Homo sapiens: one gene and its partners. The protein of the gene in region 2 purifies or fractionates together with the protein of the main gene of each other region. This does not show direct contact. Each region holds a gene or a part of one and is shown on either strand. Other genes may lie near its edges. The genes, in order: VPS50, VTI1A and CLCN5.

Region 1 (3,656 bases), on a different chromosome or scaffold from region 2:
GAGGTTAGGATGAGGTTAGATGACTGAAGGCAGGAAGCTAGATCATGTAGTACCTTATAGGTAATAGCAAGGTCATGGCTTTCATTCTGAGTGAAATGGCAAATAGAGGAATGATATAATTGGACATAACACTTCAGACAGACCATTTGGACCCATGTTTTAAGAACAGATTGAAGAGCGGAAAAGAGCAAAACCAGGGGAGGTGAATGATGAGGCTACTGTGGTAATCCAGGTGAGAGGGTGGGTGTAAGCCTTCCACCCTAGTGGTGGAAGTGTTGAAAGAGGTCAGACTGTGAATATGCTGTAAATGTAGAGGTGACAGAATTTCCTGACAGATTGGGTTTGGGCTGTGAGGGAAAGAGAAGCATCAAGGATGACTCAAAATAGTTTGGCCCTAGCAATTGGAAGAATGTAATTGCCATTTCCTCGGATGGATAAAACTGAGGGAGGAACAGATTGAGGGAAGGGACATGGTTTTTGGACTTGTTAATTTGAAAGCCTCTTAAATATTCAACTGGAGAGATACAGCAGGCAGTTGGCCAGATGAATCTGAATTTATGGGGCGAATCCAGGGTATAGCTGAAACTCTGGGAGTTACAAACATGTAGATTGCATATAAACTGGTTAAGATCACCAGTGGAATGAGTGTAGATATACAAAGAATCTAAGGTTGGAGCTTTTGAGAATCCAGTGTTAAAAACTCAGGGGGAAGTGGTGGATCTAGGAAAGCAGAATGAGAACATGCAGCTTGTGAGGTAAGAAGTCTTTAGCTTCCTGAATGGCACCTGGAATATAGCAGATGCTCAATAAATATTTGTTGCATGAATGTGGGATGAAGAGAACAACCAAGAAGACTGCCTTGAAGCCAAGTAAAGAATTTAAAAGAGTAAGGAGTGATTAGCTGTGTTAAATGCTGCAGATTGGTCAAGTAAGGTGAGAGTGAGAATGAGAAATGTGCTTTTGGATTGAGCAGCGTGGAGGTCCTTGGTGCCCCAACTACAGCAGTTTTCATGAAGTTGTGGGGAGGAAAGCCTGATTAGAGTGGGTTCAGGAGAAAATAGGGGGAGAGAAATTAGGGACTGGGTGTAAACACTCTTGAGTTTTGCCGAAAGGAGAAGGAAACACAAATCATCACAGATGCTTCTTTGGATGGATAAGACATAGTTGCTGGTTTCGTAAATGGAAAATGAGGATTAATGTAGACATAACTGAAGTAGTCTGAAGTGTTAATCTGATTTGGGTAAATGAAGAGGCGAGTGTTAATTTATGCTGAATTTTCTATATGTCTAAACTGGGGAATTATCAACACAAACATCAAATACAAAAGAAAATCAAATAGTGGTTAATGATAGCATCAAAGTGTTAATAAAGGCAGAGAACTGTAGTTAAAACCATGACTTCATGCTTTAGAGAGATGAAGATAAAATAAGAATGACTTCATTTGTTAGTAGAAGTTTATAAAACTGATAAAGTGTTAAAAATCTGTAATTCTAAAGTACAGTTGAATGTCAGATGTGCTTTGAGACATTTATGTAATTCTTCATTTCTGTTTTGATAAAAGGAAAGCATTTCTGTCATAATAAAAATATTAAGAATTATGGTTAATCATCACAGAATGCTTGAGATATATGAGACAGTATTTTTGGCTTCTCACATACATGACCTCTTTTACTTCTTTTTTTTTTTTTTTTTTTTTTTTTTTTTTTTCGAGACAGTCTCACTCTGTCGCCCAGGCTGGAGTGCAGTGGAGCGATCTCGGCTCACTGCAAGCTCCGCCTCCCGGGTTCATGCCATTCGCCTGCCTCAGCCTCTCAAGTAGCTGGGACTACAGACGCCCGCCACCACGCCCGGCTAATTTTTTTTTTTTGTATTTTTAGTAGAGACGGGGTTTCACTGTGTTAGCCAGGATAGTCTCCATCTCCTGACCTCGTGATCCGCCCGCCTCGGCCTCCCAAAGTGCTGGGATTACAGGCGTGAGCCACCACGCCCGGCCTGTTTTACTTCTTATAATAGCCTATGAATGATCATAGAATATAATGCACAGAAAGGATAGATAAGTTGTTCAAAACCACAGCAAGAAAGTCAGGATACAAACTCAAGTGGTCTGCTCCAGAGCCCATTGCTATAATCACTTCACTCTACATCCTCCTAACATGTACACGGGTTTTCAATTTGTATTACTTTTATTTTGTACATTTGGCAGAAATTTGCCGTGTATTGGTATTGAATTGTTGTGTGGTGACTACTTTTTCTAGATATTGGTATATATCACGTTTACATTTCAGGCATTGGTTTCTTTACGGACTAGCTCTGGGGAAAGAGAAATTAAATATGATATATTTCTTCAGGGATTTCTGTTAGATTAGTTAAGCAAATCTATACAGATGGTCCCCGATTTACTATGGTTTCACTTAATGAATTTTTGAGTTTATGATGGTTTTATTGAGATTATTAAATGTATTTTCCACTTATAATGGGTTTAAAAATTTTTTTTATTTTTAGTTCAAGGGTACCTATGCAAGTTTGTTCTATAGGTAAACTCGTGTCACAGGGGTTTGTTGTACAGATTATTTTGTCACCCAAGTATTAAGCCTGGTACCCAATAGTTATTTTCCTGATCCTCTCTCTCCTCCTACCCTCTACCCTCAGGCAGTCTCAGTGTCTGTTTTCTTCTGTATGTTTCCATATGTTCTCATATGATGGGTTTATTGGAACATAACCCAATTGTAAGTCGAGGAGCATGTGTACTTTGAAAAATGTTTGTTTAAAAGACATGGCAATTACATTTTAAAAATATATTTTAGGGGTGGTCATGATTTTGAATCAAATTGGGAAGTTTTACTTTCATGTGTGCATATATAATGTATATAGAAGTGTAGTTTGGTAACTCAGCCTTGCCTTCTTTACCAGTTTTGATGCTATTCCCTCATGACTGTTGGTGAGAATTCGAGACAGGGAAGAACAAACCGCCCAAGACTAGTAACATACTATTTTTCTCCCTCACTCATTGAAAGGCATATTAAACCTCCTTAGGCCTTTTTTTTTTTTCCAGCGAGCATTCCTAGAAATTTTTTTGCAGTCAATTACATGTTCCCATGGGAACAATGCGCTAATTTGTGGGAGATTGGAGCCTGACCAATGACTTCTACCTAATAATTTACTCATTTCTTTGTTGTTTACTCTGTTTCTGGAACTTTGCTAGCCACTGGGCTGCAGAGGCAAATAGGACTTTGTCTCTCCCTTTCCTTAGGACTTAAAGTTTGGAAGAGAAAGATATATTTAAAATTTAAAACTTTACTACTTTGGCTGAGGTATTGTCTTGGAAGATGTCTTACTGAGGTATTGTTTTGGGAAAATGCACATTCCTGGCCCAAATCTAGAAAAACCTATTCATTAGGTTTATTTTAGGGCCTAGGAATCTTACTTTTAACAAGTTCCCTGGGTGGTGTTGATGGACATGATCCAAGGGTTATACTGAGAAATACTGTGTTCTTTGGAGCATAGGGATTTAGGAAGACTTTGTAGAGGAGATAATTCTGAAAGTGATGTATTGCTTTCTCATTTCTTGGAGTGGTAAGTGTGCCTGAGAGAGGGAGACGGGGAGAGAAGGGTGGGTAGGTTAGATATTCTGGGGGTAATGGAAAACTTGCGGTTGA
Region 2 (3,656 bases):
GACATTGAGATTTTGCTACACTAATTTCAGGTCAGGGCCCGAGTTTATCACCAGTAAGTAAAATGTGCTGAGAAAGAGGAATGAGAGAACAGAGAAAAGAAAAAGAGATAGAGAAGTAAAAATATAAATGCAAGGTACTATGAGAGAAGATACTTTCTTCAGTGCCTAAAAATTTACAGCAAATTTTCAAGGACATTTTTCTCACAAGTCTTGAAAACTCTATACTGTTGAATTTTCAGACATTGTAGTAAGAACAATTAGAATATAACAGAATGTTTCCTGGGCAAAATGAAGGAGAAAAAAGAATGAGTTTTTAAAAAAAGCTTAAACATCTAGCCATGGCATATGTAAGAATAAACCTGTTTTTATTTTAAAAATTACATTTCTATAGCTTACAGATCTTGCATTGGCATTCCTGGTCTATTTACTCTTAGGAATCATTCTGACAGTGCATTTAAGCTTTCCAGATGTTTTACCTGTCATTCTACCAAAGACTACATTTAAAATGTAAAATATGATAGCAATGATAGGTGGCAATGATTCCCCAGGCTAACTCGAAAGTAACTCTAACAAAAATATGCATATCAGATAATATTGTGTGAATGGTCCTGGCTAGGTCAACTGCATTTAATACTGTCTGCTTTGTTTATACTACAGATTAGTTACAAAAGACCTCTTAGCAGCTCCACGCATAAGGAAGTTAACCATACTCATACTGGAAGGATAAACAAAATTCACTTTCTGAAGGAAACAATCTGAGTGCGTGTGTGTGTGTGTGCGCGCGCACGCGCGCATGTGTGTGAATGGGGGCAAATATAGGTAGTGTCGGGGAGAGAGGAAATTATTTGATTTGAGATTGTCAAACAGAATGGGTGTTAATCATCTATGCCATTCCTTCTTTTCTTTTCCTTTTTCTTTTTTTTTTTTTTTTGAGATGGAGTCTCACTCTGTCACCCAGGCTGGAGTGCAGTGATGTGACCTCGGCTCGCTGCAACCTTTCGCCTCCCAGGCTGAAGTGATTTTCATGCCTCAGCTTCCCAAGTAGCTGGGATTATTAGCTACTGCACCTGGCGAATTTTTTTTGTATTTTTTAGTAGAGGTGAGGTTTCACCATGTTGGCCAGGCTGGTTTCGAACTCCTGGCATCAAGTGATCTGCCTGCCTCGGTCTCCCAAAGTGTTGGGATTACGGGTGTGAGCCACCACACCTGGCTTATGCCATTTTTTTTATAAGCACTTTGCCAGCATATACAATGCAGCGGAGGAGCCAAGGTAAAGTAGTAACATATCCTGTAAATTTTTGTCAGTGGAGCTCTTAAGCTATAACTTTGTTACATTCCTGAGGCATTGTTCATATACTTTTAGAAACAAATGTACAATTAGTGATCAATCATTAACTCTTCAGAGGTAAAAGGAAATAGAATCATGATTTCTTTTTATTCTGACTGAATTTTGAAAATCTTAATTTTCATTTTTACAGATTGCCGACAGTTTGAACGAATAAGACTTTCTGCTCAAAGGTATAGAAAAAATACACACACAGACACACACATAAATACACACATATGAAGAGAGACATTTAAGTCTCCTAGTGATACTGTGACACTTTAAGACAGCCAATTATAATAATCAAATTTTGTGAAAGTCAATGAAAAGACCCATTTATTGGACCCAGTTACAACATAAATGGTCACTTGTTTCATGACCATTTTCATTATTATCTGAATTCCACTGTATTTAAACTCTGTCTACAGAGTTAGGAAATGAACAGTTTGTCCCTGGATGGCTCTCCATCACATGTCAGGATCGAAGAAAAATTACTTTCCAGGAAATCAGCCAGAGCTGTGTTCTGATGTCGAGTTTTACTATTATAATTTTGAATGAACCAATTTTCTCCTTTGTTTTCTTTCTTTTGGTAACATGGCATGCTTACATGAAGAGCAATTTCTTTTCGGTTGAAGCAGTTGCTGTCTCACTAAATTACATATTATATGTCAATGTTTTTGCACACCTTAGTTCTTTTCAAAATTTGTTTGTAATGATTCCATATACCATTTTCTATTTCCCTATTTTTTTTTCCAAACAGGTGGGCATTATAGCCATTTAACTCGTATTTTTTATTAGTTATTTGTTTTTCTGGTGTCCCTTTTAATGACCAGCAAGGACTAACTGGAGTTGTGGAATCTTCAATAGCTGCTTTGAGAATCCGTTAATTTTGTGAATTTCCATAGTACATTTTTATGCATACGTCCTCTACTACACTAAAGTACTCTGAAAGTGAGGATAAAATTGGTTTCATTTCAGGATCCCCGGCCCTGGCATACAGACATTAAATATTTACTAAGGAAATGAATAAGCAGAAGAAAGAAGAGAAGAAAGGAAAGAAGGAAGGAAATAGATGTTTATCTTATTTGAAGTTAATAAAATATTAAAAAGCATGAGTGGTAGATGATTATTTAGTGGCTGCTGGATTTTATAAACTTAATTTTTGTTGCTTACTTATTTTGATTTCTCCAATTCCTTTTGGTCAGTTTTACAGATAATCAAGTGGCCATACGCACAGATCTTGGTATCAATGGAACACTGGTTTCACCTGTCTTCACAACAGACCATACGTAAAATGGCTCAAATGATGAGCCGTGCCAAGCCATTTCTGTTCACTTTACAAATTTAAGAACAATCAAGGTTTAAAAAATTTTAAAAATAACCTGCAATCTTTCTTTTAAATAAAGCAACTCCTTGGTTTGGTATACTACAGAATATTTAACTATTTTCAGTCACACAGAATTTATCATATGAAAATAAGCTTATGTTATATGCAGGTAAATGCTCACACTTCACAAAGAGGACATTCATTTCTTTTATAGATTTGTGAAGGTGACAGATGAGTACAAGATTCAATAACATAACATTTCCTAAATCAGAAACGCTTGTTGACACACGATATAGCTATGCAGTTTTGGTAAGAAGAAGAGTAAGAGAATGTGGCTTTTCTTTCTGAAACACAAGCTCACAAGGGCTGGAAGTGAAAGCCATATGAATGGGAGGGTTGTAACAGGGAAAGCAAAATCAGAGCATTCAATAAAAGGCTTTGGTACATAAACCCTGCCTCTACTTCTCTAGAGAGAGCTTTTCCATGAGATAACCAAAATAATGAAGCAGAGAGGTTGGCAAAATGTTTGTGCCTTTTCAAGTCCAAAATACATTGTATATCATACGCGGCAGTAATTAGAAACTAAAACCACTGCATTTGGTCCCCAGAAAACCTGCCACGTTATGGCATTGGTTGAAAATATCTGAATATCCTGGCTGATACCAAGATCCCAGCTGTGCCTAGTGAAAAACATTGTCATGCATATGAACAGGTGGACTTAAGCATACCCTTGGTTCAGATGTAGCAAGGTGATGTCCATCTGGGAATTTTTATTTCTGTTCATACTCTAGACACATCCCAAAAGAAGATGAGTCAGTGATTGACTGAGTTTGCCTACAAAGAGAACCCCATGTAGATTTCACCAGAGTAATTTTCTTCCGTAGGCTTCTGAAACAACCACGTTATTATGATTTCCCTACAGAAAGCCCAGTCAAAGGTTGCAGAAGTTGTTTGTGCTTCACCCTCTCTAAATGACTTGCAAATTTATTCAAACACAATATGAGA
Region 3 (3,656 bases), on a different chromosome or scaffold from region 2:
GAATGATTAACCAGGAGCAGCGCTCAATCCCAAACAGAGGATTTGGTACTAAGGAGTAAGAAGTGGAACAGAATGGAGGGGGAGTAATTGCACACAGGTAAAACTACAGAAAATGAAATAGTGGTTGGAATGATGATGGTGGCTCTGTAATTCCACCAAGTGTCCCCAGAGTGTGATTTTTTTTTAACTGCAATAAAGGTGGTATGAAATTGAGACAGGCACCTTTTCAATTGGATACAAGCACCTTTGGTGTCACCAGGCCTTGTCCATACCCCTGTGTCTTAGGATGGCTCTGCATTTTATTTAGAATTCTAAGGACTCTTGAGGGAGTCACAGCTGCCTATCCTGTTCCAACACCTTGAATATATTTGGAAGCATCCCAAGCCTAATTCATGATCATGGGGACAACACACTGGCCTGTTACACATACTTATCGCTGGGAGGTACAATGAGTGTCCAGTTATTTTAGTACTGGTGGTCTTTACAAAGGAATGCATGAGGATGCATATGCAGTTCTGAGTCTTCCCTGGTTTACCAGTATGCAGTCTAGACTTGGTTCCCTTTGCTGTTTTTACATATTCCAGAAGCCTAAAGCACCATCATTCATGGAGGTGGCATCTGGGTAAGAGAATTAGTTAGGACCTCACAAACATGTGAAACTCCTAGTCATTGACTTTGCTTAGAAGTTTACTAATTATTCATTTCAAGGAAGCTGGAAGAAATCATTCCTTGCTACTAACAAATTCACGGCAAAGTCCTTGTCTACCAGCTAACAAATGCCACCTGGAAAATTACCGTTTTTGCAGACAAGGAGAAAGCTCTATAACTTATCTTTGTGCACTTCAAAAGAGTACCAGCAACAAGCAAGCTATAAAAGTCAATCTCTCTAAATTCATTTAGAAGAGATTAACCAAAGCAGCATTGTCTTATAATCAGAAATTAAAATTAACATAAACATACACACATAACAAACTAATAATGCTAAATATTGTAACAGGAACAAGGATAACATTTGAACTGAATCTTCACAGTCTAGAAAATACCATTACTCTTTTCCTTCTGGCTTTCCTTTCTCTGGTTTGAAAAGCAAAGCCCCTTAGTTTACACTTCGTCTTCCAGTAACAACAGTTAGATCCCAAAAGAGTGACTTTTTCGTCGGTTTCCTACAGGTTATAGGTCAGGACGGTTGGAATTTCTCTTGCATAGTTTTCAGTGATTGCATATTGGCTAACTACTTTTTAAGTTAAAAAAATCTTTTAAAAAGCAAATATAATTAAACCATAGCAATCTTATTTATTCTTTCATGATATCTTCCTAATGTAACATCATGGAAGCCTAACTATAATTTCTCCTAAAGAGAAAATTAATTTCCAGAGATTATGTAGTGCAACTGGTTAACTTGTAGGAAAGAGACAACACACTAATGTGACTTCACCATCCAAATATGGAAAATGTGTTTTGGGTACCCAGTTAATACAACATATCCATGGTCTGTAATGTCCTTCCCGCTTTACATCCAGAACTCTATGATTCTAGTTGAAGAGAATGGAATCAGGATCTTGGTTCGCCATCTGTGCTATATGCTTTAACACATCCTTTTTGGTAATGATTCCAAGCAATCGCCTAAAAGACAAACACAATACAAAAAAACAAAAATAAATCTGTAGTTAAAATAGCATTCCCAAAGGTGATACTTGTCCTCCTCAGTCCTTTTCAACTTTGTCTTTGATCACTAGCTGCCCTTTCAGTATGAGATCACAGGAGTAGGACATGTGCCCCAGGCAAATAGGATGATGTGTGGATTCCTAAATGTATGCAAGTGTTTCTACCTCTAGGTCTCAGACCCTGCGATTTCCTCTGGTTTAAATACTCTTCGCTACATATCTGAATCTTATCTACTGCAGCCCAGTTCAAACGCCCCTATTCCAGAGCACCTTCCCTGATTCTATGAGCCAGCAGGAACTCTGCCCTCCTCACAGCAACAGCATGCACATTCTTTGCAGGCCTCCTCAGTGGCACTTGTCCTCTTTGCTATTGTACTATAACCACTGCTAGGTTCTTGCCTTCCTTAAAACACTGTCTGCTCCTTGAGGGCACAGAAGGGTCTTATTAATTTTTGTGTCTCCCTGGAATCCAGTGGAGTACCTTCTTACATGGAGCAGGGATTCAGCAGATGTTGAATGAACCAGTTAGGGAACTCCCCTTACTGATTTAAATCCTGCAAGGCATCTGTTACACCATTTAGAAATTTCAGATGTGAAATTCTTATATAATTGCTGGATTAACGTAGCATGTTTGGGAAAAAAATCCACCCCTCTCCTCAACCTCCTTTCTTTTCCAATAAAAATAGAAGGGTTCCCTTTACTGGATAAGAACTATCCCAGGAAGGAAAGAGCCATGGGCTTGGGAGTCAGAAGACTTGTGTTTAAAGCCTTTCTCTACTATTTATTAGCTGGAGAACTTTGTATAAATCTCACCTCACTGAAACTTGGTTTTCTCATCCTCAAGTAATAATAAGGAGATTGTAGGGAACAAACACCCAGCAAATACACTATTACCTGATGCTACTGTAATTTCAGTGCTGCCTATGCACAAAACACAGGTGTTTCCTTTGTCAGGGAGGAACTGGGTTATTTATAATATGCAACCAGCAGTTCACATCTCTCAAACACATGTTCTTTCCCAAACTCCCTTTACATTAATTATGATTTAAAAAAACCTATCCACTTTCATCTCAGAGCTTCAAGAAGTCCTAAAAGTGCTACTAATGTTCATTTAAACTGGGTTCTACTTCTTTCTACTTCTTTCTATCTCTGCATTCTCTTTCTCCCACAATTCAATTTGACTTCACTCAAGACTTCTTACCCGTTGTGTGTAACCAGGCACTGCCGCAGTCCCAGCTTTCGGAAAATATCCACTACGATCTCCATGGGTGTAAGGTCAGTCACAGTGAAGGGGCTGAGATCGAGGATGTTCCGAAGCTTTAGAGTGGGTGGAGTGTATGGTGGCAATGGAGGAGAATGCTCCGTGAAATAAATGATGGAAGTGCTAACAACCCCATCCTGTTTCTTTCGAGCATTTTCTATTCAAACAGAAGGAAAAAACAAATTGAAGATGGACGTGCTAGCTCTATCCTTCTGGCTCCTAACCAGTCCCCCCTTCCCTGTCTTCCCCCATTTCAGGCATATTTATTGAGTTCCACAGTGGATTCCACTATCCCCTTTCTGAAATCCTTACCAATTGAAATAATGAGATCTCTTCGGAGGACAAAGCCCACAAGTCTTTGGGACTCCCGGGATACCACCACTGGGAAGCCACTGTAAGTGGTTTCACTGATTATGGTCTCTACATCTTCCACAGTCATACTGTCCTGAGTAAGGACAGTCAACAAAGGATCATTTCTCCGGGGTTTCATCACATCCATTGCCAGGGTCTTATGAGCAAACTCTTCTTTGGCTTCAAGAAAGGGGTATCCATTGAGACGGATGTGGGCATCATAGATGCCCTCCCGCCCAAGAGCATCTGCCACCCACTTGCTTGTCATGGCTGCAGCCATCAGAGGCACGATGTATTCTAAGCCACCAGTCAGTTCAAACATTATGACAACAAGAGAAACAGTCATCCGAGTCACCCCACCTGCAAAGAAATAGACACAG

What was found.
Region 1: the proteins of VTI1A (region 2) and VPS50 purify together in Homo sapiens (pull-down; one study listed by IntAct). This does not show direct contact.
Region 3: the proteins of VTI1A (region 2) and CLCN5 purify together in Homo sapiens (affinity purification with mass spectrometry; one large-scale study listed by BioGRID and IntAct). This does not show direct contact.

What each region holds. Positions count from the first base shown.
Region 1 is NC_000007.14:93,235,263-93,238,918, forward strand, and holds part of VPS50 (syndetin), read left to right. Parts: intron 1-3,656.
Region 2 is NC_000010.11:112,670,591-112,674,246, reverse strand, and holds part of VTI1A (vesicle transport through interaction with t-SNAREs homolog 1A), read right to left. Parts: intron 1-3,656. UniProt on the Homo sapiens protein: V-SNARE that mediates vesicle transport pathways through interactions with t-SNAREs on the target membrane. These interactions are proposed to mediate aspects of the specificity of vesicle trafficking and to promote fusion of the lipid bilayers.
Region 3 is NC_000023.11:50,090,096-50,093,751, reverse strand, and holds part of CLCN5 (H(+)/Cl(-) exchange transporter 5), read right to left. Parts: intron 3,637-3,656; coding exon 3,238-3,636; intron 3,083-3,237; coding exon 2,866-3,082; intron 1,624-2,865; coding exon 1,533-1,623; 3' UTR 1-1,532. UniProt on the Homo sapiens protein: Proton-coupled chloride transporter. Functions as antiport system and exchanges chloride ions against protons. Important for normal acidification of the endosome lumen. May play an important role in renal tubular function.